5 separate regions of the Homo sapiens genome follow, and all the other regions are linked to region 2. Evidence: fine-mapped expression QTL. A gene starts in region 2. Each other region holds a variant in brackets. All regions are shown on one strand. Distances are between the middles of the regions. Region 1 overlaps LINC01388 (long intergenic non-protein coding RNA 1388). Region 2 holds the start of WASHC1 (WASH complex subunit 1). Region 3 holds the start of DOCK8 (dedicator of cytokinesis 8). Region 4 overlaps PGM5P3-AS1 (PGM5P3 antisense RNA 1). Region 5 overlaps ZNG1A (Zn regulated GTPase metalloprotein activator 1A).

The links.
Region 1: its variant is fine-mapped to the expression of WASHC1 in lymphoblastoid cells (TwinsUK, PIP 0.95). The same link has a PIP of 0.9 or more in skin.
Region 3: its variant is fine-mapped to the expression of WASHC1 in whole blood (TOPMed, PIP above 0.99).
Region 4: its variant is fine-mapped to the expression of WASHC1 in whole blood (TOPMed, PIP above 0.99). The same link has a PIP of 0.9 or more in blood mononuclear cells.
Region 5: its variant is fine-mapped to the expression of WASHC1 in whole blood (INTERVAL, PIP above 0.99).

The regions. Positions count from the first base shown.
Region 1 is chr9:103,259-108,366 of GRCh38, reverse strand. LINC01388 (long intergenic non-protein coding RNA 1388) reads left to right here. Exons shown (of 8, transcript NR_187612.1): 6 at 4,573-4,678. Among named protein-coding and RNA genes, the nearest start is that of LINC01388, 8.0 kb to the left of the region's middle. The variant T/A (reference allele first, on the strand shown) is at 2,573.
Region 2 is chr9:26,384-31,491 of GRCh38, reverse strand. It overlaps WASHC1 (WASH complex subunit 1), which reads left to right and starts at 2,036. Exons shown (of 11, transcript NM_001378090.1): 1 at 2,036-2,180. MIR1302-9HG (MIR1302-9 host gene) reads right to left here and starts at 1,833. Exons shown (of 3, transcript NR_197460.1): 1 at 1,610-1,833; 2 at 1,047-1,150; 3 at 601-734. It overlaps MIR1302-9 (microRNA 1302-9), which reads right to left and starts at 1,348; the gene lies at 1,211-1,348.
Region 3 is chr9:210,168-215,266 of GRCh38, reverse strand. It overlaps DOCK8 (dedicator of cytokinesis 8), which reads right to left and starts at 402. Exons shown (of 48, transcript NM_203447.4): 1 at 238-402. The coding sequence starts at 290. DOCK8-AS1 (DOCK8 antisense RNA 1) reads left to right here. Exons shown (of 1, transcript NR_160804.1): 1 at 1-1,810. RefSeq lists silencers at 1-67, 238-287, 338-387, 398-647. The variant G/C (reference allele first, on the strand shown) is at 2,268.
Region 4 is chr9:83,285-88,392 of GRCh38, reverse strand. The region is part of intron 2 of PGM5P3-AS1 (PGM5P3 antisense RNA 1); the gene reads right to left. Among named protein-coding and RNA genes, the nearest start is that of PGM5P3-AS1, 13 kb to the right of the region's middle. RefSeq lists an enhancer at 5,009-5,108. The variant G/A (reference allele first, on the strand shown) is at 2,287.
Region 5 is chr9:168,093-173,200 of GRCh38, reverse strand. ZNG1A (Zn regulated GTPase metalloprotein activator 1A) reads left to right here. Exons shown (of 15, transcript NM_018491.5): 4 at 1,029-1,120. Among named protein-coding and RNA genes, the nearest start is that of ZNG1A, 8.4 kb to the left of the region's middle. The variant A/T (reference allele first, on the strand shown) is at 2,301.

The sequences.
Region 1 (5,108 bases), 77 kb before region 2:
CAGGAGCGGTGTATACACACGGCGCTATTGGGAGTAATATCATTTTCTCCACCGCTTGATATTAGGGACAATATAACAGTGGGGACGTGCACCCCCTGGGATATTGGGAGTAATATTAATCTCTTCCCCTGTGGATGTTAGGAACAATATCACAGAAGGGGTGTATACCCCCAGCGATATTGGGAGTAAGATCATCCTCTCCCAACTTGGATATTAGGAACAATATCACAGGGGAAGTGTATAACCCCTGCGATATTGTGAGTAATATCATCCTCTCCCAAAAGGGAGATTAGGAACAATATCACAGGAAAGGTGTACACCTCTTCTGATATTTGGGGTAATATCATCTCCTCCCCTCATTGATATTAGGAACGATATCACAAGGTGCGTACAGCCCCTGCGATATTGGGAGTAATATTATTCTCTCTTCCCCTGGATATTAGAAATAATATCACAGGCGGAGTGTACAGCCAACCCCCTGCGATATTGGGGGTAATATCATCCTCTTTTAACCTGGATATTAGGAACAATATCACAGGGGGCTTGTACACTTCTTTTGATACTGGGAGTAATATCATCCTCTCCACAAGTAAATAGTAGGAAAAATATCAAAGAAGGTGTGTACACCGCTTGTGATATTGGGAGTAATATCATCCTACCTCACCTGGATATTAGAAAAAATATCGGGGGGCGTTTACACCACCTGCGATATTGGGAGTAATATGATTTTCTACCCCAGTGGATATTTAGAACAATATCACAGGGGCAGTGTACACCCTCTGAGACATTGCGAGTAATATCGTTCTCACCCCGCCGCCCCCACCCCAGATGTTAGGAACAATATAACAGGCAGATTATACACCTGCCGCAACATTGAAAGTAATATCATCCTTTTCCCCCTGGATATTAGGAACAATATCTTATGGGGGGTTTACAGCCCATTCCATTTTGGGAGTAATAGCAACTTCTTCATTGCTGGAAATAAGAAACAATATAGCAGTTCTGGTGTACACACCCTGTGATATGGGCAGTAATATCATAGACTCTCCCCCGGTGTATTAGGAACCATATCAAAAAGGGGTGTATGCCCACAGCGATTTTGGGATTAATATCATACTCTTCCCCCTGGATATTAGGAACCATATCAAAGAAGGAGTGTCTACCCCTTGCGATAGTGACAGTAATATCATCCTCTCCCTCCCTGGATATTAAGAACAATAAAACAGAATTGGTGTACACCCACTACGATCATGGGAGTAATGTCATCCTCTAACCCCTGGATATTAAAAACAATATCACAGAGGAGGTGTACACCCCTCGCGATATGGCCAGTAATATCATCGTCTCCTCCACTGCGTATTAGGAACAATATCAAAGGGGTGTGTACACCTCCTGCGCTATTGGGAGTGATGTCATTCTCTTTTCCCCTGAATATGAGGAATAATATCACTGATGGGGTGTACAACTCCTACGATATAGGCAGTAATATCATCCTCTCCCAACCTGGATATTAGGAACAAAATAACAGGACATGTACACCCCCTGCGATACTGGGAATAATATCATCCTCTCTCCCACTTAATATTGGAAACCGTATCCCAGGAAGAGTGTAAACCCTCTGAGATATTGAGAGTAACATCATCCACTCCCTACCTAAATATTAAAAACAATGTCACGGGAGGGGTGTACACCCCTACAATATTGGGAGTAATATCATCCTCTCCCTCCCTAGATATTAGAAACAATATAAAAGGGGTCGCGTACACCCCCTGTGATACTGGGAGTAATATCATTCTAATCCCCCCTGGATATTAGGAAGAATATTATACAGGGGATGTACACCCCTTGACATATTGTGAGTCATATCATTTCTCTTCCCTTGGACATTAGGGACAACATCACGGGGCGGGGGTGTCCCCTGTTATATTGAAATTATTATCATCCTCTCCCAAACTGAATATTAAAAACAACGTCACGGGGCTGCTGTGACCCCAGTAATATGGACAGTACTATCATTGTCTCCCTCTCTAAATATTAAGAACAGTATCACAAGAGGGGTGTACACCCCCTGCGATATGGCCAGTAATATCATCGTCTCTACCTTTGGATACTAGGAACAACATCACAGAGGGTGTGTACACCCCCTGCGATATTGGGCGTAATGTTAGCCTCTCTTCCCCTGGATATGAGGAACAACATCCCTGGTCGGGGGAGGTGGAGTACATTAAGAACAATATCTGAAGGAGGTGGGTGTTCACCCCCTGAGATATTGCGTGTAGTATCATCCTCTCTTTCCTAGGATATTAAGAACAATATCACAGGAGGGGTGTACAGCCCCTGCGATATTGGGAACAATATCACCCTATCCCCCTCTCGATATAAGGAACAATATCCCGGGGTGGGTGTACACCCCCTGCGATATTGGGGGTAATATCTTCCCCTCCCCCGCTGGCTATTAGGGACAGTGTCACAGAAGGGTGTCCACCCCCTGCTGTATTGGGAGTGAGATCTTCCTCTCCGTCCCTGGATATTAGGAACAATATCCCTAGGGAGTGTACACCTCCTGCAATAG[T/A]GAGACTAACATCATCCTCTCGCCCCCTGGATATTAGGATCCATATCTCAGGGGTGGTGTACATCCCCTGCGAAACTGGAAGAAATATCATCCTCTCCACCTTTGGACGTTAGGGACAGTATCACGGGGGAGGTCTACGCCCCCTGCGACATTGGGAGTCATATCATCCGCTCCCACCCAGGACATTAGGAACAAGATGACTGAACGGAGGTACACCCGCAGCGATATCTTCAATCATGTCATCCTCTACGCCCTGGCAATTAGGAGAAACATCATAGAGGGGTGTACACTTTCAGCGACATCGGGAGTAATATCCTCTCCCCCACAGATATCGGGAACAGTTATATTAATTATTAATAGTAATAAATATATTAATAATTAATAGTAATCATCGATATTAATAATTGCAATAGAGATAGTAAAAGTTAATACGGATTAAAAATATTAACAATTACTATTAATAATAACAATATCACTATTAATAATAAAATAATGATATTATTAATCAATGTTACATAAATCAGTCATAAGTGATGTTGGTAATAAAACAATAATTAATATTAAGATTAATAACTAATATTATTGAAAAATGACATTAATACAGATAATTTTAATCATGCATAATCGTACATTTAAAATAATCATTAATGATTAATAACGTTATACTATTAATTAATATTACCATTGATAATTATTAAGACTGAAGTTTAACAATTAATAATATTATTAAGATTGATGCTTAATAATTAATCGTATTATTTCTCCTAATACCGCAGGGGGTGTACACCTACCTGTGATATTGTTCCTAATATCCAGGGATGGAGAGCATGATATTAGTTTTAATATCTCAGTAGGTGTACACTCACCCTGTGACACTGATCCTAATAGCCAGGGAGTAGAGTATGACATGACTCCCAACATAGCAATGAATGTACAGCCACCCGGTGATATTGCTCCTAATATTCATGGAAGAAGCGTAGGATATTACTTCCAAAATCGCAGGGAGTGTACACCTCTTCTGTGATATTGTTCCTGGTATCCCGAGGGGGAGAGGATGATAATAATCCCAGTATCGCAGGCTGTGATCACCCACCCTGTGATATTGTTATTAACATCCTGAAAGGGAGAGGATGATATTACTCCCCGTAATAGATAGATATTACTCCCCATAACAGAGCAGGAGGTGTACACCCACCCTGTGATATTGTTCCTAATATTCAGAGGCCGAGAGGTCGATATTACTCCCAATATCGCAGAAAGTGTACCCCCCCAGGGATATTGTTCTCATGATCCTGGAGGGAAGAGGATGATGTCACTTTAAATATCACAGAAGGTGTGCACGCCCCCACTGATATCGGTTCTAATTTCCACGTGGGAGAGGAGGAGGTGACGCCCAATCACACCTGCAGTAGAAACACAGCTGTGATGCTGTTGTTAATATTCAGGGAGGAAGACGATGATATTACTCCCAAAACAGACGGCTGTACACCCTCTGCACACCGAGGGTGTACCCCCATCTGTGAAATAGTTTATAATTTCCAGAGGGGGAGATGATATCACTCCGAATACCGTAAACAGGCTGTGAGTCCACCGCGGATCCTAAAAACCAGGGAGGGAAGAGGGGCTGGCACGCACTCCCCGCATCAAGGGGGGTGTCTCACCCCCTTGCGATGGGGGTCCTAAGAGCCAGGGGGGAAGAGGGGCTGGCTCTCTTTGTGGATGATTCTTTTTCCATTCTCAGGCAGTTTTCTTTTTTCTTTCTTTTTTTTTTTGGAGACTGAGTCTTGCTCTGTTGCCCATGCTTTGCTGGATCTCGGGTGACTGCAACCACTGCCTCCCAGGTTCAAGAGATTCTCCTGCCTCAGCCTCCTGAGTAGCTGGGACTCTAGAGGCGTGTGTCACCACACCCAGCTAAGTTTTGTATTTTTAGTAGAGATGGGGTTTCACCATGTTTGCCAGGATGGTCTCTATCTCCTGACCTTGTGATCCACCCACCTCAGCCTCCCAAAGTGCTGGGATTGCAGGTGCGAGCCACCGGGTCCAGCCTCTCAGGCGATTTTCATACCTGCATACTCTGATCACTACGCTGTTAAACAGTCAAGGAGGGTAAGTATTATCTTCAGATTTCCAGAGCTCTGTCTCTGTACAGCCCTCTCCTCCTCAATATTCTGCCCTATGAATTCTAGCCACATTGGCCTTCCCAGACTCACAGTTCTGTCTTCTCAACTCAGGAAGATCTCTGAGCTCCATCTGCATTCTTTCTTCCTGTGCTGTGGCTTGGAAAGTTTTCTAAGGTGTTTGGGAGGTCAATTGTGGGGCTAGCCTCATTTGTTTCTCATCTCTTGAGGATCACTGCCCTTTGATGCTTGATTCCAGTGATTGATTCCCTTTGTTGCTTGAGGGCCATAGTTTCATATATTTTGTCCAGTATTTTTGTTGTTTTAGGTCAGAAAGTAATTTTGGTCTCTGTTACTCCATCTTGGCCAGAAGTGTAAGACCTAAGCATTTACACATCAAAATACTGCACACATAATTT
Region 2 (5,108 bases):
GTCTCTCTCTGTCGCCCAGCCTGGAGTGCAGTGGTACAATCATAGCTCACTGCAGCCTCGATCTCCCAAGCTCAAGTGATCCTCCCGCCTCAGCCTCCCATGTAGCTGGGACTACAGGTGTGTGACACCATGACTGGCTATTTTATTTTATTTTTGTAGAGATGGAATCTCACAATATTGCCCAGGCTGATCTCAAACTCTTGGGCTCAAGCAGTCCTCTCGCGTCAGCCTACCAAAGTGCTAGGATTACAGGCATGAGCCACCACGCCCAGCCAGATTACAAAATACTTTGACATCTTTTCTCTACAGCCCTCAAAAGGAGGCAGGGCAAGCACAATTAAATCCCATTACAAATGGGGTGACTGAAGCTCCATTCATGGCTTGCCCAGGGTCACACAAAGAATGAATAGCAGATCCCTGAGCCTGTGTGCTTCCCTCTGTGCCAGGCTGCTTTACCCAGGCATGGGTGCACGTTGTGCATGGGACATTTCTCCTTTGTTGTGTCCTGAGTACCTTAAGCCACTCAGATATTGCTCAGGTGGAGTGAGGGGAAAATGTTTTCAGGTTGTATTAGTCAAAACAAAATACCACACACTGGGCGACTTTAAAATCATACATTTATCCCTCACAGTTCTGGAGGCTTGGAAGTCCAAGTTCAAGGTGGCAGCTGGACAGGTTCCTGGTGAGGGCTCTCTTCCTGGTTTGCAGACAGCCACCTTCTCTTCGCATCCTCACTTGGTGGGAAAAGACAGAGGAGAGAAAGAGAGAGAGAGAAAAATGAGATAGAGAGAGAGAGAGAAATGAGATAGAGAGAAATGAGAGAGAGAGAGAGAGAGAGAGAGAGAGGGAGACACAGAGACAATGCTCTCTTTTCTTACCAGATCTATAATGAGGGCCCCACCCCATGACCTCATCTAACCGTAATTACCTACCAAAGGCCCATCTCCACATACCATCACATTAGGGGTTAGGGTTTCAACATAAGCATTTGGAGAGGACATAAACATTCTGTCTACAACATGAGTGGAGATCCATCTCTTCTTTACCTCTGGTAAGGGGACCACACGCTGCAGCCAGCGAGACAGTGGCATGTTCTTGTTACAACTCGATCTAACTCCCCCAGAAGAGGAGGCAGGGAAGGCGGACAAAACTGGGAGAGGGAGAGAGTGTTAGGAAGAGAGTAGGGTGGCCAGAGGCAGCAAATAAAATATAAAATGCTTAATTCTGAATCTCAGATAAACAACCAATAATGTTTTTTAGCATAAGTATGTCCCAAACTAAGCTTGGGACATATTTATGCTACGAAATTATTCGTTGTTTATCTAAAATTCAAACTAGCTGGGCATCCTGTCTTTTAATCTGGCAACCCTAAAAGGCAAGGGCCAAAAATGCCGGAGGCAAGCCAACGGATTCCAGGAGGGACAACTGCTGGACTTTGGACTGATGATGCTCTTTTTATATATTTAACTTTTTAAAAAAGCCTCTTTTCTTTCTTTTTACCAGCTTTTCACTAGCTTTTTAAAAATTGTGGTAAAACATACATAACCTAAAATTCACCGTCTAAACCATTTTTCAGCATACAGTTCAGTGGGATTAAGTAGATTCACACCGTTGTGCCGCCATCACTACCACTCATTTCCAGCACCCTTCCATCACCCCAGCCTGAAACTCTACCCATTGAACACGAGCTGCCCAACTCCGCCTTGCTTCCCCATTCCTGGCGACCACTGCTTCTGTCTCTGTGAATTTTGACTATTCTAGGCACTTCACAAAACTGGACTCATACGATATCTGTAGTTTTGCGTCTGGCTTCTCTATTGAATTCTTAAAGGGGGGTGGGAACTAAGCAGATCACAAGGGAGCTGCCCACAGAGGTAAAGACAAGGTCAGGTAGGCTGAGAGACGCAGGAAAGCGGGTCAAGGCGTAGGGCTGGAGGGCAGGGGCGGGCCCTGGGCGTGGGCTGGGGGTCCTGCCCCGGGGCGCACCCCGGGCGAGGGCTGCCCGGAGGAGCCGAGGTTGGCGGACAGCTTGGCCCTGAGCTTGAGGGGAAGGCAGCGATGGGACAAAGGACGGAGGTCTAGGAAGAGGGTCTGCAGAGCAGAAAGCACGGGTAGGGGCGGCCTGACGCTCGGAAGACAACGGATGGGAGCCGTGTGCACGTCGGGAGCTCGGAGTGAGCGTGAGTTCCGTGCCCAGGCCCGCGACTCGGCCCGACAGGACAGCGCTCCGGGTCGACGGGGTCCTGGAGCCGCGCTCGGGGAGGCGTCTTGGGCTCGCCCCGGAGCTTCCTCCCTGGAGCCGCGCCCTGCACCCGGCCTTGCCCGGCCCTAGCAGGGAAGCCAAGGCTTGTGGGGCGCAGGGACCCGGGCTCTGCGGGGTCCCGGTTCCGCCTCCCCACTCCTGCGTCTTCCCGCCCCTGCCGGGTTCTGGGAAGCCTCGCGCGGCTCTTCCGCAGCTGCTGCCCGCCCGGAGCTCCTGGTCCCTCGTAGGGGACCCCACTTCTCTGACACCGCTTTGGGTTCCCGGGGCCTACAGCGAGGCTTGTAACTCCGGGAGAGACCCTGGAGCGGGGTGTGGGAGAACGGTCTGGAGGAAGGGCTCCGAGCACTTCGAAAGTATAAACCGCGGTCCCAAAGAGGCGTGCTGTGTCTGCATTTTCCTGGGAGTGCACGGTTTACATTCTCGAAAGCAGTGCTGTCGACTAGAAATATTGAGCGATACACATGTACAAGTTTTGTCACTTAAAAAGAATTTGAAAAAACTTCATAGATGCAAAAAAAAAAAAAAACCCACCATTATTAAAGAATACTTAGGTATTTGTGGAATGCATTGAAGAGTTAACAAAATGGATAGGCAGGAAATATCGCAGACCTAGAATGAATTACAGTTACCCACTGTGGAACTGAGGAGCTAGGGTTTCTCATAAAACTCCCTGATAGAAGACGACTTTTGATAAAATTTTTTTTCCGCCAACAAAATCCCCTGTCTTCTCAACTAGTTACTGTCTGTCCACTAAATAAGAGGTGGTCCGTCACTTCTTCAGATGAGCAACTACAGGCTTTTCAAAAGATAATTGCTAATCAACCCCTTTGTGCCTGGGTTTTCTTATTTGTAAAAATAGATACTACTACCTAACTCCAAAGTGTGTGGTGAAGACAAACAATTGGGGTGATGTATACTAAAGTAACGAAAGTGTTGACCACACACTACGGGCTGGTTAGTGTTAGATTCCCTTGTTTTTCCCTCAGTATCAAAAACAGATCTAATTTAGGTTTACATAAAGACAAAGTATGAAGATAAGGTGACTTACAGTTGGTACTACTAACAAAATGTTTGGGCTAATATTTGCATTATTGCATGAAAACAACAAAACATATCAATAAATAACAAAAAGCTTGGAATTCAGACGACAGATCCAAGTCTGGGCTTGATCTCAAGCTAGTGTTTTGATGTTGAAAAAATGTTATTTGGTCTTTCTAACCCCATTTCCTTATGTAAAATAGGGGATGATGATAAATTCACTGATAATAAGAGTTAAATGAGATTCTTGAGGAGTCAGAATGGTTCTAACATGTGTAGGTATTATTAGCAGTCATACTGTAGCATAAGAAAATACCGTCTGCTGAAAGAGGGACAATAAAGATTATCTACATGGTCATCATTTAAAAGCTACCAGATATAGGAAGAAGGGGCCATAAAATGATAACGTTATGATGATTAATTTTGATGCTTAGGTCAGAGTCCATTCTAGGATATCTGCTGCCCAAAAACAGCAGAGACTCATTTCTTTGGAATCACAGGACGCTGAGTGAGAGGAAAGAAAAAGAAAAGAAATATTTAAGTCACATATGTGATTTCTAAAAGTAAAAAGAAACAGATGAAATTAGTGATATATTTTTAAAATCCAGTATATCCCAAATATGGTTATTTTAGCATGTAATCAATATAAAATAATAAGATATTTTACATTCTTTTTTTCTAGCCTTTGAAATTTGGTGCATATTTTACACTTATGGCACATCTCAATTCAGACTATCCACATTTCAAGTGCTCAGTGGCTGCATGTGCCTGGTGGCTACCATATTGGACAGCACAGGTCTAAGGATTTCATTCCTGCCACAAGTCCAAACTCCTAGCTTTAATTTTGAGTGTTTTTAACAAACTGGCCTCTGTTTATCATTCTTTCTTCTAGTACTTCCCCAAGGATGATTGTACCCTCAGCACTCAAGACCGCTTGCGGTTCCCCTACACACTTTTTGTTCAAGCTGTTTCTTTTACCTGGAATGCTGTCTTTGCACCTTCTTCCTGGACCTGGTTCACCCTCGTTGCCTAGGCTGGAGTGCCATGGCGCGATCTTGGCACACTGCAACCTCCACCTTCCCGGTTCAAGTGATTCTCCTTCCTCAGCCTCCCGAGTAGCGGGGATTACAGGCCTGCACCACCACGCCTGGCTAATTTTGTATTTTTAGTAGAGATGGAGTTTCACCATGTTGGTCAGACTGGTCTCGAACTCCCGACCTCAGGTGATCTGCCTGCCTTCGCCTCCCAAAGTGCTGGGATTACAGGCGTGAGCCGCTGCGCCCGGCCGAGAGGCACACATTCTGCTAAGAGCTTTTTCCTGACTCCCCTAACTCCAAGAGGGATTTGTCACTCCTTAGCTTTGTACCCATGACTGGAGTAGAATGAATTTAATTTGAGTTTAGTTGTTTTTGAGACTCTCCCTGGCTAGTGTAGTGTCTTATTCGTCTTTGTTGTGATCATGGCCTGCACCTAACAGATGATCAGTAGATGTTTGCAGACAGAAAGTAAACCACTCATCAGGTGTATTCAGTCCCATTCTTGAACGGGCTTGCTGCCTCCTTTTTGAGGAGATCTGTGTATGTACTCTTCTTTCACGCATATGTGTGAGCAAACACACACACACTAACAAGAAATTCATCTGAAGATGTGCACAGGAAATATCTTGCATCTTTACCCCCTTTGTGATCTTACATATGGGAGAACTGAGGCACAGAAATAAGTTAGGACAGCCAGCAAACTTGCATCAGTATAAATACAAAGAAGGGGAGGGAGGAACATGCTTGAAAGGGGTGTGCTGGTCTCAGAG
Region 3 (5,099 bases), 180 kb before region 2:
GGACATCCAGGAGCACCGAGATTCTTGGGGAGGACCTCGCCGGGCCCAGCGCAGGAGCCGCCGCGCGTCCAGCGGCTCCACCGCCGCAGCCTCGGGAACCGGGCGCCCCAGGTCTCAGGCGCGCCCCGCCGCGGACGCGAATGGACTCGTCCGGCCTCGGCCCCTGCAGCGAAGCTCCGCTTCACACCAGCGCTGGGCTGTCCGGCCGCAACCTGCGCGCCGCGGGGGGCGTCTTACCTGTTGATCTTGAGCGCGAACGCGCGGCGCTCTGCGCTCGGCAGAGTGGCCATGGCCCGCCGGCGGTTCGGTGGCTTCTAGGGTCGCGGGGTGCGGAAAGCGGGGGCCTGGCGCGCCGCAGAGTAGCCGCGGAACATGCCCAGCCAAGCGCAAACCTCGTCTGTCGGTCGGCGCTGGAAACTTCCGCATTTCCACCTTCTAAGCCGAAATCACCCCGGGGGAGGGTCCGAGCTCGGAGCAGCGACGGCCGGCTCCGCCACCCGGCCTGGCGCGCAGGCAGCGGCGGGCGAGGAGGGCGTGGGCCCAGCGCGGAACTGGCCTCCCGATACTGGGGCAGACGGCGCGCTCTGCCCGGGGCCGCCGACCTCCGGCCGAAGGGAGCGCGGGCGGACGACAGGCGACCACTGCGCGCAGGCCGGAAGCTCCATCTGCCCGAAGCTGCGAGGCTGCCAGGGAATGTAGGCAAGTCGGGGGAGCCCCACAAAGCTGGCGAGGTCGGGAATCACCCCAGGGATTCGTAAGGCTAGGTGTTATTAAGGGTTGACACCATTCTCGAAGAAGGCAGCCAAAAAAAAAGACAAAAAAGTTAGTGGAATCTATCAGGATTCAAATCAACTTTTGCAAGCAATATGCCCATCATCCTTCCTGAGACACTAAATAAATATAATGGATTCATCCAAGGAATAAACATTATGAGTTCTCAAAAAATGTTTTCGTCACAACCTGGCGTGAATGCTTTTCTCCGGAGAAACACTGAAGGCGGCGTTCTTGCGATTCAAGGGTACGCTGCGTCCAGGTTTATTTCAGTTTCAGACTGAGGTCTGCTAAGAAGCCCGGCCTCAAACTCAAGATAAAAACAGAAAAGTCCCAGTGTTGACGGGAGTGGAGGAGCCCGTGTTCGCTTCAAGGTGCCGGCGTGCTGCTCTAACCTGTGCTATATATACTCGAGCACTCTCCATATAATGCCTCCATTTACCAACTTGCTCTTAAAAAATACCAAAGCAGGCCGGGCGCGGTGGCTCACGCCTGTGATCCCAGCACTTTGGGAGGCCGAGGCGGGCGCATCACGAGGTCAGGAGATCGAGACCATCCTGGCCAACGTGGTGAAACCCCGTCTCTACTAAAATACAAAAAATTAGCCGGGCGTGGTGGCGCACGCCTTAGTCCCAGCTACTTGGGAGGCTGAGGCAGGGGAATCACTTGAACCCGGGAGGCGGAGCTTGCAGTGAACCGAGATCTGCCACTGCACTCCAGCCTGGCGACAGAGCAAGTCTCCGTCTAAAAGAAAAAAAAAAAAACAACCAAAGCGAAGTATTTTTGGTTCAAACCTGCACTATTTAATATGATAGCCACTAGCCACATGTGGCTATTGACCACTCGGCATTATGGTTAGTCTGAATTGCCCACTGCTGGATGTGTAAAATGTACACTGGAATTTAAAGACAGCGCAGAAAACATCGTGTAAAATGTCTTGTTAATGATTTTCATGTTGATTGCATGTTAAATGATACTTTGGATATAAAAAATATATTATTAAAGTTAATTTCACCTGTTTGTTTTCCCCTTTTAAAAATGTGGTTTGCATTTTTAAAAATGTAAAATTACACATGTGGCTCACATTTGTGAGCCTCATTATATTCCTATTGGACAGTGCCAGTCCAATACAACCTAATTTGTCACCTAATACTAAAATCCACCTAAGGACTATATTCAGTCTCTTCCTGATACAGCCTTCCTTCCTGGTTTCAGCTGTGTCAGGTAGTTTAGTAACTTTTCAGTACTGGTTAGGTAACTCCCCGCCCCCCAATGCCCACCAAATATCAGTGCCCTTTTAAGCATATAAGACAAAGTTCACTGCATAGACTACAATAGACTACATACGAAAACAAACCCAAAGAAAAATAAAGCTTTTTTGAAATTTAGAGTTTCTGACTTTCAAAACTGTCCTTATTTACTACATTGGAATTTATGAGCAAACATTTGGATAGCAAAATACAAAGAGAACAAATGTGTAAGTACTTCTTCAAACT[G/C]AGACTCAACGAATGATACATAGAAAACATTTTGCCCCAGAGGCTTCGGTCCACGGTGTACCATGTCAGCCTTTCGGATGAACTCCTCTGAATTTCTGAATGTTTATGACATACATTTTCATATAGAACAAAAATATACTGGTTTCACACAAACATAAATAAAATGTAATGAAAGCATCTCAGATTTTCAGCATTTGCAATCAAGGAAACTTTTTGGGTGAATGTGGGAATCATAAAACCTTCCATCTTGCCTCAGATCATACTGCAATAGATTTAGTATTTGGTACCTAACCATGAAGGTTAGGCCAGCATTATTATCCTCTGTGCTGTCAATTTCTTGATGGTTAGAATTGTCTCCAGATTTCCTTAACACTCTTTTAACAATTCACCATGAATGTGTTATCCATTAATTTAGTCAAATGCCTGTTTTCAAGTTTGATCTGCTGTTAGATACATTCACATATTGCTGGCAAATAGCCATCCAAGTGCCTTTCTTCCTTATTCTCACTGCCTCTTTCGTTTTCCATCAGCCCTCTGTCCAGAGAGAACTCTGGGAGGCCTCCTTCTTTCCGCATCTGATGGTCTCTCTTGGCCTTCCTCTTTCTCCGTATCTTTGTGTCATTCAATTTTGTTTTTCACCTTTATACAACTCTTCCCTTGACTTCTATCTCAGACCATACATCAATTATCCTAAATGCTCTAGTTTTCCCCACATCTTCTTCTTACCTCCCCAGAAAGCCGACCTCTTTCTCTACATTGCATCTTACCTATTTTATTGAACAAACAACTAAATAACACTTATCTTGTACCGGGTACTGCTCCAAGTCCTTTATAAAAATTAATTCATAGCAACCATTAAATAATAACATTAACCCCCCCACACATACCTCTTTGCAACTGGAGAAACTGAGGCTTAGAGAAGTTAAGTGACTTGACCAAGATTACAAACTAGTAAGGGCAGAGCCATTTCCTATCCTAAAGTTTTGCCTATTTCCCAGATTTCTGTACTCTAACATCTTCAAACTCCAGTATAAAACTAAAATTCTCCATCTACCCTACTTAACTGGAAGCTAGCTATCTCTCCATAATCACACATTTTTTGGGGGGTCGGTGGTGGCACACTACTTCCTCATTTTCCAGGTTTAAAACTTTGGAGTCATCCAGTGGAGGGAAAAGCAGGAAATCTGGGTTCTGGCTTCAGCTTTTTGCTAATTGTGTAATCCCGAGTAAGTCACACGGTCTTTGGATCACAGAGGCCTGTATCTTGGAATGACTCCATCTGCTTGCCTCTCTCTGAACTTTAGAAATACGTCAGCTCTAACTTTTTTTCCTCCTGTGTCCTTCAGATCTAATCACCTACCAAGGTCTGCCATTTATTTCTTATAAATATCACTTCTTTGTAAATATCACTGTTCTCACAGTGGCTTTCATTCCGGTCCAGCCCTTATAAATTAATACCTAGATAACAAAAATAAGATTTTAAATGGCTTCACTGCCTGTAGCCTCTTCTTTCTCCTATCTCATCTGTTTCTATCACTAGATGAAGTTTACTAAAATACCTGTTTCACCATATTTCTTCTCTGCTCATTTAGCTTTGGTGACTTCCTGTAGCCTCTATGACCAAGCGTGACCTTTTCTAGCTAGCTCGTATGCCCACTTCACAAAACCAGCTTTATTCTTTACCTTTCTGTTGGAGCAGGGAAGATCTCCAGCTTGTCCCTAAAGCAGGCGGTGCTCCTGTCTGCCCAGGCCCTCTTCCTGCTTACGTTATCCTTCCTGCTGTCCTCGCCTCGCACCACATCCAGTCTCTGCCCATCCCTCAGGGTCTGAGTCAAGCTACCATGCTCCATCTCTATTGGATGGAGTGTCTCTTTCAGTCTGACAGCATCATTTAATTAATTAAAAGTGTGGGTCATTACCAATAAACACAGCGCAGTGGAATGCAAGATCCTGAGGACAGGACTAGAGAGGAAAAAAAAGTGTGATCATTTTCATGTCCCTTCCTTCTTCCCCAAAACCACGCAGGACCTCCCCAGATTTAGTTCAAATGTCACCTTCCAAGAACATCTAGTTAACATGACAGTGCCCCCTTCCCTTGTCCTGACACTTTCTAACTCCTTTTCCAACTTTGTTTTTCTCCATAGCTGTTATGACCATCTGACATACTATATATTTTATTTATTTGTTTATTATCTCTTATGCTTCTAGAATAAAAGTTCCATCAATGCAGAGGTTTTTGTTTGGTTAATTTGTGCTCTATCTCTACTGTCTAGAGCCCTGGCATATAGTAGGTGCTCAAAAAGTATTTATTGAATAAATGAATGAATAAGTGAACTTGAATGGGAATGGCCAAGTTTCACTTGTCTTTCAGGAGACAATGACAGTTTTTACCTTTTTATTCTCTTATTTTAGTTGTGCCTTTTTATGAATATCTTTCAACTCTGTTTTGTATTTGTTTCTTGGTTTGAAAAATCAAACCAGCAAGTAGATATCTTTATTGTTGTCTTACAATTGGTGAAACATACAGAAAGATTTGAGTGCAGGTATTTAAAACCAGCCATACTTTAGATATTAGAATTTGTAGCTCCTAATTTTCTTCACGTCATTCCTTGTTTTGTCATAAAAAATCTTTCAATATGAAAAGAACAAAGATTAGCAAACTTTCCTTTAAAAATTATCATTGAGGCCAGGCACGGTGACTCATGTCTGTAATCCCAGCACTTTGGGAGGCCGAGGCGGGCAGATCACCTGAGGTCAGGAGTTCGAGACGAGCCTGACCAACATGGAGAAACTCCGTCTCTACTAAAAATACAAAATTAACCTGGCATGGTG
Region 4 (5,108 bases), 57 kb before region 2:
AAAACAAGTCAAAAGGGAGCCCAGGATGGTGCAGGAAAAAGGAGAAAGGAAGATTTTCCTTGCAGCTAATCAGGAGAGTTCATAAGGGCTGATTACATGTGTGGAAGCCTTAAGTTCTTTTTTTTAAAAAATGTGAAAATTTGCATGCATGCATGCATGTATGTATGTATGTATGTATGTATAGCTTCGTGTATTACCATTATTATTGCAATCAGCAAATGGATTTACTTCCTTTATCTCATGGGCTCCTTCCCACTCACTTCTGGCAGCACATTTTCCTTTCTCCTTCATCCCAGAACACCAAAGAACAGATGCGCTTCCTAACCCTGGCTCCAGGGGACTTTATACAATGTAAACAGTGCACCTCTAACGTGGTTCACCGCTTAGAGAACGTGTGTCCCATTTTAAAACTGTGACTCCTTTGTATTTTGCAGTGCTTATTTTAATAAGAGACATTGGACTTGTGACTTATTTTTCATGGAGGAGTGAGCTTAATGGTTGAAAGTAATCGATAAACTTGTTTTTCCTCTGATGCCATCAGCCAAGATCCTATGGCAATAGTAAGAGGATGACACTGGGCTGGCACCCCCTCCATAACATATTTGGACCATTTTTTCCCCCAGAATGCACATGCAATAGCTTCGGTTTGGTAAGAGAGAGATGGTGTACTTGGTTTCCTTCTGTCACACTTTTGGTGAAATGAATTAGACTTTTAAATCAGGAAATTCAGCGAGATGAGTTAGATTTTTACACAAGAGCAGTGGAGGACTTCCAGCTGGTTGGGGGAATGATACGGAAATATCTTGCTAAATCAGGGTCTGGTGGAATGCTGCTCCCCTGGCAGGCTCCTCTTCACAGGGAGCAATCTGTGGGTTGCTTATAGAACAGAGCGAGCAGGAGGCATAGCATGGTCTTGCTCGTGGGAAGACCCGGTGTTCAGATGTTTGTCATTAGGAACTGGGTGTGGGCTTTTTCAAGCTAAACTGAAGCAGCAGTTCTATTAGGAAGAGCCTCTCAGAGCAGCATCTTCTGTTTCTGGATACTCTCCCTTTGAAAAGCCAGATTTCAGCAAAAAGCTTTGCTAATGGTGAAATTGCACAACTGAAACCCTATGGGAGCAATGGGAAAGATGGAGAAAGAGGTGGTTATATCATGTACTTCAACAGTTTATTTAGAGGCTGTTGACGTTAGAATAACAAGCCAAGACAAACAAAAATACTCATTTTGGATGAAAATATTGTCTTTTCATGTTATTATAGATAGCTGAGTCCTAAGACTTATACAGAAACACATTTTCCTAATGAGTGGCTGATTTTTCTGGTTGTGCAAGTAATATCCAAATTATTGTACAAATTTTTGGCTCAGGAGCAAACATTGTATTGCATATTGAGCTAATCACTTGCCCTTTCTAAGGTAAGCCCTTACCTCTGCTTTCCCTTCATCTTGTCATTTCTGTTTGTTGGGTACAGGTTTCCTGTTGGTTCTTTCTGTTGGCTCTGATGTAACATGAATGCAGTTCTTAACATCCTTTCAGACATAAACACAACTTAGCTCATTGTTTCTGAGTTCATATAGAGGTTTTCTTGCCCCTGAGACTTTCATGTCAGACAGCTGGATGTTGCTGTGTTCAAGGCTCTATATGTTGATTTTGTATCCTACAACTTTACTGATTTCACCTATCAGTTCAGTTCTAACAGTTTTCAAATTTTATTTGTTTTTGTTTTCTAAATATTGTATGTTTCATTTTAGAGTCAGGAGGGTAGATGTACAGGTTTCTTACACAGGTATATTGCATGGTGCTGAGGTTTGGGCTTCTAATGATCCCACCACCCAAGCAGTGAGCATAGTAATCGATAGGCAGTTTTTCAACTCTTGCTCCCACCATCCTTCCCTCCCACCTTTGGAGTCCCCCCAGTGTCTATTGTTCCCTTCTTTGTGTTGAGTTCTAACCTTTTTTCAGTGAAGTTTGTAGGGTTTTCTATATATAACAAGATCATGCTGTCAGTAGAGACAATTTCACTTCTTCCTTTCCTATTAGGATGCCTTTTATTTCTTTCTATTGCCTAATTACCCTGAGAAGTGGTGTCTGTGGGCATCCTTGTCTTGTTCCTGATGGTAGAGGAAAAGTTTCAACTTTTCACCATTGATTATGGTGTTAGCTATGGGTTTGTCATATATGGCCTTTATTTTGTTGGGATACAGTCCCTCAATACGTGATCTGTTGGGTGTTTTTTTTTCACCATGAAAGGGTTTCGAATTTTGTCAAAAGCTTTTTCTATATCTATT[G/A]AGATGGCCATATAGTTTCTATCCTTTATTTTTCTAATATGGTATATTATATGTATTGATTTGCTTATGTTGAACCATGACATGATCGTGGTGAATGATTCTTTCAATGTGCTATTGAATTTGGTTTGCTAGGATTTTGTTGAGGATTTTTGCATCTATGTAGATCAAGGATATTGGCCTGTCATTTTCCTTTCTTGTAGTGTTCTTGTCTGGCTTTGGAATCAGGGTAATGCTGGCCCTGTAAGATGAGTTTGGAAGTATTCCCTCCACTTCAGCTTTTTGGAAGAGTTTGAGAAGGACTGGTATTAGTTCTTCTTAAAATATTTGGTAGAATTAATCTGGGAAGCCATCTGGTTTTGGGTTTTTCATTGATGGGAGACATTTTCTTACTGATTCAACCTCCTTGCTTGCTATTAGTCTGTTCAGATTTTTTAATTTCTTCATGAGTCAATCTTGGTAGGTTTTATGTGTCTGGGAATTTATCCATTTCTTCTAGATGATCCAATTGGTTAGTGTGTAATTATACATAGGAGTTTCTTAGGATCCTTTGTATTTCTGTGATATTGGCTATGATGTTTCATCTTTCATTTCAGATCTTATGCTATATTGAAAACATGAGGCATAGCAGGTAGGGGGCACTGGTCAGGACTTGGGGTATAAACTGGCAGATGTTAAGGTGGGTGATTCTGGTTAACTCAGAAACTCCAAAGTCCCCTGTGGAAGAATTAACTGCCTGTACTCGCCTAGTAATGTATATCCTTGGTCAAAAAAAGATCCAGCTGAGAATGTTGGATGAAGGGACCAAATCAATATTCATCATTATGTTGAAAACAAGTCAGATTGGCTGCGGTCTTTTGACAGCAGGTCAGTGGCTAAGTCTATTTGAACAAAGTTAGGGCAGGTTCAAGAGAGAATCCTGAGATCGGTATTCTTTGTTCCATACAACCTTGCCTTTCAGTTTCTTCTCCCCATGCCTCCAGGATGTCCCTGCACAGCCTGTAGGGCCCCCTCCTTCAGTACCTTGCCTTACGAAGGGGAGAAAATGAGTTTTCCAATGTTAGCATATATTTAGCCTTCCAAAATTTCTATTTCTATTTTAGGGGAGCTCTAGGAAAACAGCAGATTACTCTAAATCCCCAGGTAAAAATCTGAAATGGTGGAATTTCATATGACCAGGAGACATATTTTGGGGCAAGTGGGCTTTTCACAATCACTTGGACATGAAGGCATCTGCTTCTTCTATGCCTAAAATATTCCTTCAATTTAGTAGTTTAGTTCCTCTTCCTCTTTTTCAGATTTCAAGACAATACATGTACTGACTGAACAATTTGGATCCAAGTTTCACTGTTTAACTGCCAGTGTGACCTTGGGCGAGTCACTTAATCTTTTCAAGGCTCAATTTCATCATGTAAAGTGGAAGTACAAACAATCCCTGACTTACAATATTTTGACTTATGATTTTTCAACTTTAAGATAGTTTGAAAGCAATACACATTCAGCAGAAGCTGTACTTTGAGTACCCATACAACCATTCTGTTTTCCACTTTCAGTACAGTATTCATTATATTACATGAGATATTCAAAACCCACTTTATTATAAAATGGGCTTTCTGTTAGATGATTTTGCCTAACTGTAGGTTAATGTGAGTGTTTAAGGTAGGCCGAGCTAAGCTATGATGTTTAGTAGGTTAAGTGTATTAAATGCATTTTCAGCTTACAATATTTTCATAAGTTTATTGGAATATAACCCCATTGTAAATTGAGGGGTATTTGTAATAATGATATCTCTTCAAGGAGACTTTGTGAGCCTCTCATAGGAAAATGCATACACAGATGCATATAAATATATAATCTTTCTTTTCCATACATATGATATTCTTTAAGGATATTCAAAAATCTGGAAACAGTTGCCTCCAGGGAGATAAATGGTAGTGGGTTGGGAAGCTTTTAACTGTATACGCTTTTGTACCTTTTGCATTTTGAATCAGATGAATGTATAATCTACATAAAATATTAAGATTAAAACATCACCGAATAACTTATCAGGAGTTTGGTGAACATAAGGGAAGGCCACCTATGGTGGCTGTATTTTATTCAGTGTTGGTCACTGTTGGGCACTTCATAGAGCTTATTTCATTTCATCCTCACAAGCGCCGTAGGAGGAAGGGGCCCCAGAGGGATTCATGGTTAGAATAGCAGAGTAGGGGTCTCCCTCTGATGCCGAGCCAAAGCTGGACGGTACTGCTGCCATCTCGGCTCACTGCAACCTCCCTGCCTGATTCTCCTGCCTCAGCCTGCCGAGTGCCTGCGATTGCAGGCGCGCGCCGCCACGCCTGACTGGTTTTCGTTTTTTTTTGGTGGAGACGGGGTTTTGCTGTGTTGGCCGGGCTGGTCTCCAGCTCCTAACCGCGAGTGATCCGCCAGCCTCGGCCTCCCAAGGTGCCGGGATTGCAGACGGAGTCTCGTTCACTCAGTGCTCAATGGGGCCCAGGCTGGAGTGCAGTGGTGTGATCTCGGCTCGCTACAACCTGCACCTCCCAGCCGCCTGCCTTGGCGTCCCAAAGTGCCGAGATTGCAGCCTCTGCCCGGCCGCCACCCCCTATAGGAAGTGAGGAGCGTCTCCGCCCAGCAGCCGCCCCGTCCGGGAGGTGAGGAGCCCCTCTGCCCGGCCACGACCCCGTCTGGGAGGTGTGCCCAGCGGCTCATTGGGGTTGGGCCATGATGACAATGGCGGTTTTGTGGAATAGAAAGGCGGGAAGGTGGGGAAAAAATTGAGAAATCGGATGGTTGCCGGGTCTGTGTGGATAGAAGTAGACATGGGA
Region 5 (5,108 bases), 140 kb before region 2:
TTCTTGAGTAATTTAACTGAATTTACACAGTTTGCTTCATTGTATTTTCAAACAAATAGAAAATAAACTTATTAGGAAGCATTTTCTTAAAGTGTTTCTTGCTGTCTTTTCTATCTGCTCTAATGTTTTGGTCCTTTTATTGAGTTTTTATTGCTTTTGATGTCAGGGCTTATTTAATCTCTAGTGCATGAAAGTCTCATATGTAAAAAATGATTATTCTGAATTTAATCTGTCATTGGTCATACTTCTAAGTGTTCAATCTTATAAAAAAAATAAATGACTATCAAAAAAGAGAAAAACCTTACGTTATGTTCTACTAGTTAAGTTTTCAAGGACAGTGTTCACTAGTCTACCATAGACCCTAGAAGAGTTACCCAACACATAGTAGCACTCAAATATTTGTTGAATGAATTATAAAAATGACTACTTGTACTGTTAATTTTGTGTATTCTAGTGAATTAAATCTCTTCGGCATCATTTACTCCCTTAGGTATTTGACTTTGTGTCAAATGTTTTGGCAAGGATAAAATTATAACAGACTTTCTTGAACAACCAAAATATAATCTATTAAGGATTTTCCTTCACTTTTGATAAAATAAGAAAAAAGGAAATTAAAACCTTGCATCCTAATGTAAAATAGAATTATATGGTGTTTAATATCAGTGTCTCTTTAGCTATTATATTAAACTACTATAGTTAATACATTTTATCATTATTTTGTATGTTGGTTTTTAAAAATTTCATAAAGCTATAAAAAGATACTTGGTCAGATAAAGTTTCCTCTGCTTTTAATTTTGATAAAGTATTATGTATATGATTTCTTTTTACCTATTATATATATGCATCTATTGTTTTCTCACTGGTAAATATGGGACGGACATTTTGTTAGAAGGTTAGAAGTGAGTTAAATTTTCACATTCCCAAGGGTACTTTTGTCTCGGGTTGTTGAATATATTTTAAAGTGTTTATAATAATCACTTCAAAATATTTAGGTAATTAACTGTAAATTATGTTTTGGTATTCTCCAGGGACAGTGGCCTTAGAGCTATTGAGAATTTGATGCAAAAGAAGGGGAAATTTGATTACATACTGTTAGAGACCACTGGATTAGCAGACCCTGGTAAGAAGTGAGATTATTAATAACCAGAATATAGTTCTGTGATATATTGTAAATAGATGTATTAGAGGAATATCTAAAATGAGGATTAAAGCTTTTGTTAGTATTAAACCAAAAACTTTTTTTGGTTTAAAAGAGGAAAAGTACTCGGTTGTCATTTTCTTTGGCAGTTGAATGAATGAACAGAGTATTTCTTGGTACTTTTAAGCTGTTAATAGAATTTGAAGTTTTATTGATTGACTTAGGATTATTTGTAAGAACAGAAGTTGTTAAAAATAAGGACATGTAGGAAGAGCAGAGACGTTCTACCTCTAAGTACAGTTGTCCCTTGGCATCCATGGGGTATTAGTTCCGGAATCTCTGAGGATACCAAAATCTATTAATGTTCAAGTCCCTTACATAAAATGGTGTAGTATTTGCCTATAAGCTATGCACATCCTCCCATATACTTTAAATCATCTGTAGATTACTTATAATACCTAATACAATGTAAGTGCTGTGTAAGTAGTTATTACACTGCATTGATAAGGGAATCATGACAGGAAACTCTGAACTCTACTATGGAAAGCTACACAGAGTCAACCTGTTTCTAACAATGGGTTTCTGTTACCTTCTTACCAAGCTCTAATTCTTGATAAAGTCTGCTTATTTTCCCCAAATAACTTTTAGATAAAATCTTTATTTTCATTTTGCATAAAAGTTAGTGCTTATTCTGTGAATCTGACCCATACCATTATTTTTTTTTTTGATCTGGGTCTCTGGCATTGGGGCGATTTGTAAAACTATATTAAAGTATTTGGGGGTAATTTACTCAACAGGTCATAGTTGTCCAAAAGAAATATTGAAGTATCCTGAGAGTTCAAATGTGATCAGTGGTTATTGTACTTAAAACAATTACATAATAACATCATCCCCATGTTTTCAAAGTAGTATTGAATTAGGCTATTTTGGTCCTTATAGTAGGCATGGGTTTTCATACCTTTCTGATAAATCTGACTGATGATAGGACTTGGACTAATATGTTGGTGTTAAATATTTGAATCTGGTAAGAAAGAAAAATATATTGTATGCTTTTATTAGAAATAGCAAATATCAGTTTATTTCATCATAGCCAGTTTTGCCATTTTATAGACAAAAACTTGATACTTTTGAGAGTTTAATTAAACACGATTCAGCTTTTCAG[A/T]GGAAGAAAGAAAAACTAAAGATCACAGAGAAAGCTTTTATACAAATTGTAGTTATAAAAAATGTTAATGTTTCTTGCTTCTAACTTTCTTTACAATAAAGATTTTATTGTTTGGGTAAAGATGGAACATTCATTGTAAAAAAATTTAAATACCTAAAAAATACAAAGAAGAAAGTTGAAAAGTAATCATCTCACTTTTGTGATATACAAGTAGGGGCTGGGCATGGTGGCTCATGCCTGTAATCCCAGCACTTTGGGAGGCTGAGGCAGGTGGATCCCTTGAGGCCAGGAGTTCAAGACCAGCCTAGCCAACATGGTGAAATCCAGTCTCTACTGAAAATTCAAAAACTAGCCAGGCGATGTGGCGCACCCCATAATCCCAGCTACTCAGGAGGCTAAGGCAGGAGAATCGCTTGAAAGCTGGGAGGCGGAGGTTGCGGTGAGCCGAGATCACGCCACTGCACTCCAGCCCAGGCAACAGAGCAAGACTGTACACACACACACACACGCACATGCACATGCGCACACACACACACACACACACATTCATACACACACACACACAAGTAGGTACATTTTATTCCAGGGATCTCTCTATGCCAGTGCTACTTGGTAGTATGTTGAATGGCAGCCTCAGCCTCAGCTGGGAGCTTGTTAGAAAGGCAAATTCTTGACCAACCCAGATCTACTGAATCGGAATCTCTAAGGGAGGGGGTCAAGCAAGCTGTTTTTAATAAGCCCTTCAGGTGATTCTTATACTGTACAGCCATACCGCAGGGATATTGTGGGCTTAGTTCCATATCACTGCAGTAAACTGAATATCACAATAGAGTGAGTCACACACATTTTTTTGTTTCCCATTGCATATAAAAGTTATGCGTTTTGGCCGGGTGTGATGTCACAGGCCTGTAGTCCCAGCTACTTGGGAGGATCACTTGAGCTCAGGAGTTTGAGGCTGCAGTGAGTCATGATTGCACCACTGCACTCCAGCCTGGATGACAGCATGAGACCCCATTTCTTAAAAAAAAAAAAAAAAAAAAAAAAAAGCTGTGTTTATACTATACTGTAGTCTATAAAATGTGTAATAGAATTGTCTAAAAAACATACATACCTTAATTAAAAATATTTATTGCTAAAAAATGCTAACAATCATCTCAGCTTTCAGCAAGTCATAGTCTTTTTGCTGGTAGAGGGTCTTGCCACGATGTTGATGGGTGCTGACCAATCAGGGTAGTAGTTACTGAAGGTTGGGGTGGCTATCGCAATTTCATAAGATAATAATGAAGTTTGCTGCATTAGTTGACTCTCCCTTTCATAAAAGATGTCTCTATAGCACATGATGCTATTTGATAGCATTTTACCCACAGTATGACTTCTTTCAAAATTGGAGTCAGTCCTCTCAAACCCTGCTTTATCAATTAAGCTTCTGTCATATTTTAAATCCTTTGTTGTCATTTTGACAGTGTTCATAGCATCTTCACCAGGAGTAGATTCCATCTCAAGAAACCACGTTCTTTTCCCGTCCATAAGAAACAACTTCTCATTAGTTAAAGTTTTCTTATGAGATTGCAGGAATTGAGTCACATCTTCAGACTCCCCTTCTAATTCTAGTTCTCTTACTGTTTCCACCACATCGGCAGTTATTTCCTCCATTGAAGTCTGGAATCCCTCAAAGTCATCTGTGAGGGCTGGAATCATCTTTCAAACTCCTATTCATGTTGATACTTTGATCTCCCATGAATCACAAATGTTCTTAATGGCATCTAGAATGATGAATCCTTTCCAGAAGGTTTTCAATTTACTTTGCCCAGATCCATCAGAGGAATCACTGTCTATGGTAGCTATAGCCTTATGAAATATATTTCTTAAATAAGACTTAAAAGTCAAAGTTACTCCTTGATCAGTGGGCTGCAGAATGGATGTTGTGTTAGCAGGCATGAAAACAACATTAATCTTGTACATCTCCATCACAGCTCTTGGGTGATCAGGTGCGTTGTCAATGAGCAATAATATTTTGAAGGAATCTTTTCTTTTCTAAGCAGTAGATCTCAATGGTGGGCTTAAACTAAACCGTGCTGTAAACAGATGTGCTGTCATCTAGGCTTTATTATTTATAGAAAACAGGCAGAGGAGATTTAGCATAATTCTTAATGGCCCTAGAATTTTTAGGATAGTAAATGATTATTGGCTTCAACTTGAAGTCACCAGCTGCTTTAGCCTCTAACAAGAGAGTCAGCCTGTCCTTTGAATCTTTGAAGCCAGGCATTGACTTCTCTATAGCTATGAAAGTCCTAAATGGCATCTTCTTCCAAAAGGAGGCCATTTCATCTCCATTAAAAATCTGTTGCTGGCCGGGCTCGGTGGCTCATGCCTGTAATCTCAGCACTTTGGGAGGCCGAGGTGGGCAGTTCACGAGTTCAGGAGTTCAAGACCAGCCTGGCCAACATAGTGAAACCCCATCTCAGCTAAAAATACCAAAAATTAGCCTGGCTTGGTGGTGGGAGCCTGTAATCCCAGTTACTTGGGAGGCTGAGGTAGGAGAATGGCTTGAACCCGGGAGACGGAGGTGGCAGTGAGCTGAGATTGCACATTGCACTCCAGCCTGGGTGACAGAGCGAGACTCCATCTCAAAATAAATAAATAAATAAATAAAAAATAAGTCTGTTGCTTAGTGTAGCTACTTTCATGAATGATGTTAGCTACATCTTCTAGGTAGTTTACTACAGCTTCTATATCAGCATTTGCTGCTTTCCCTTGCACTTTTATGTTATGGAGATGGCTTCTTTCTTTAAATCTTGTGAACCAACC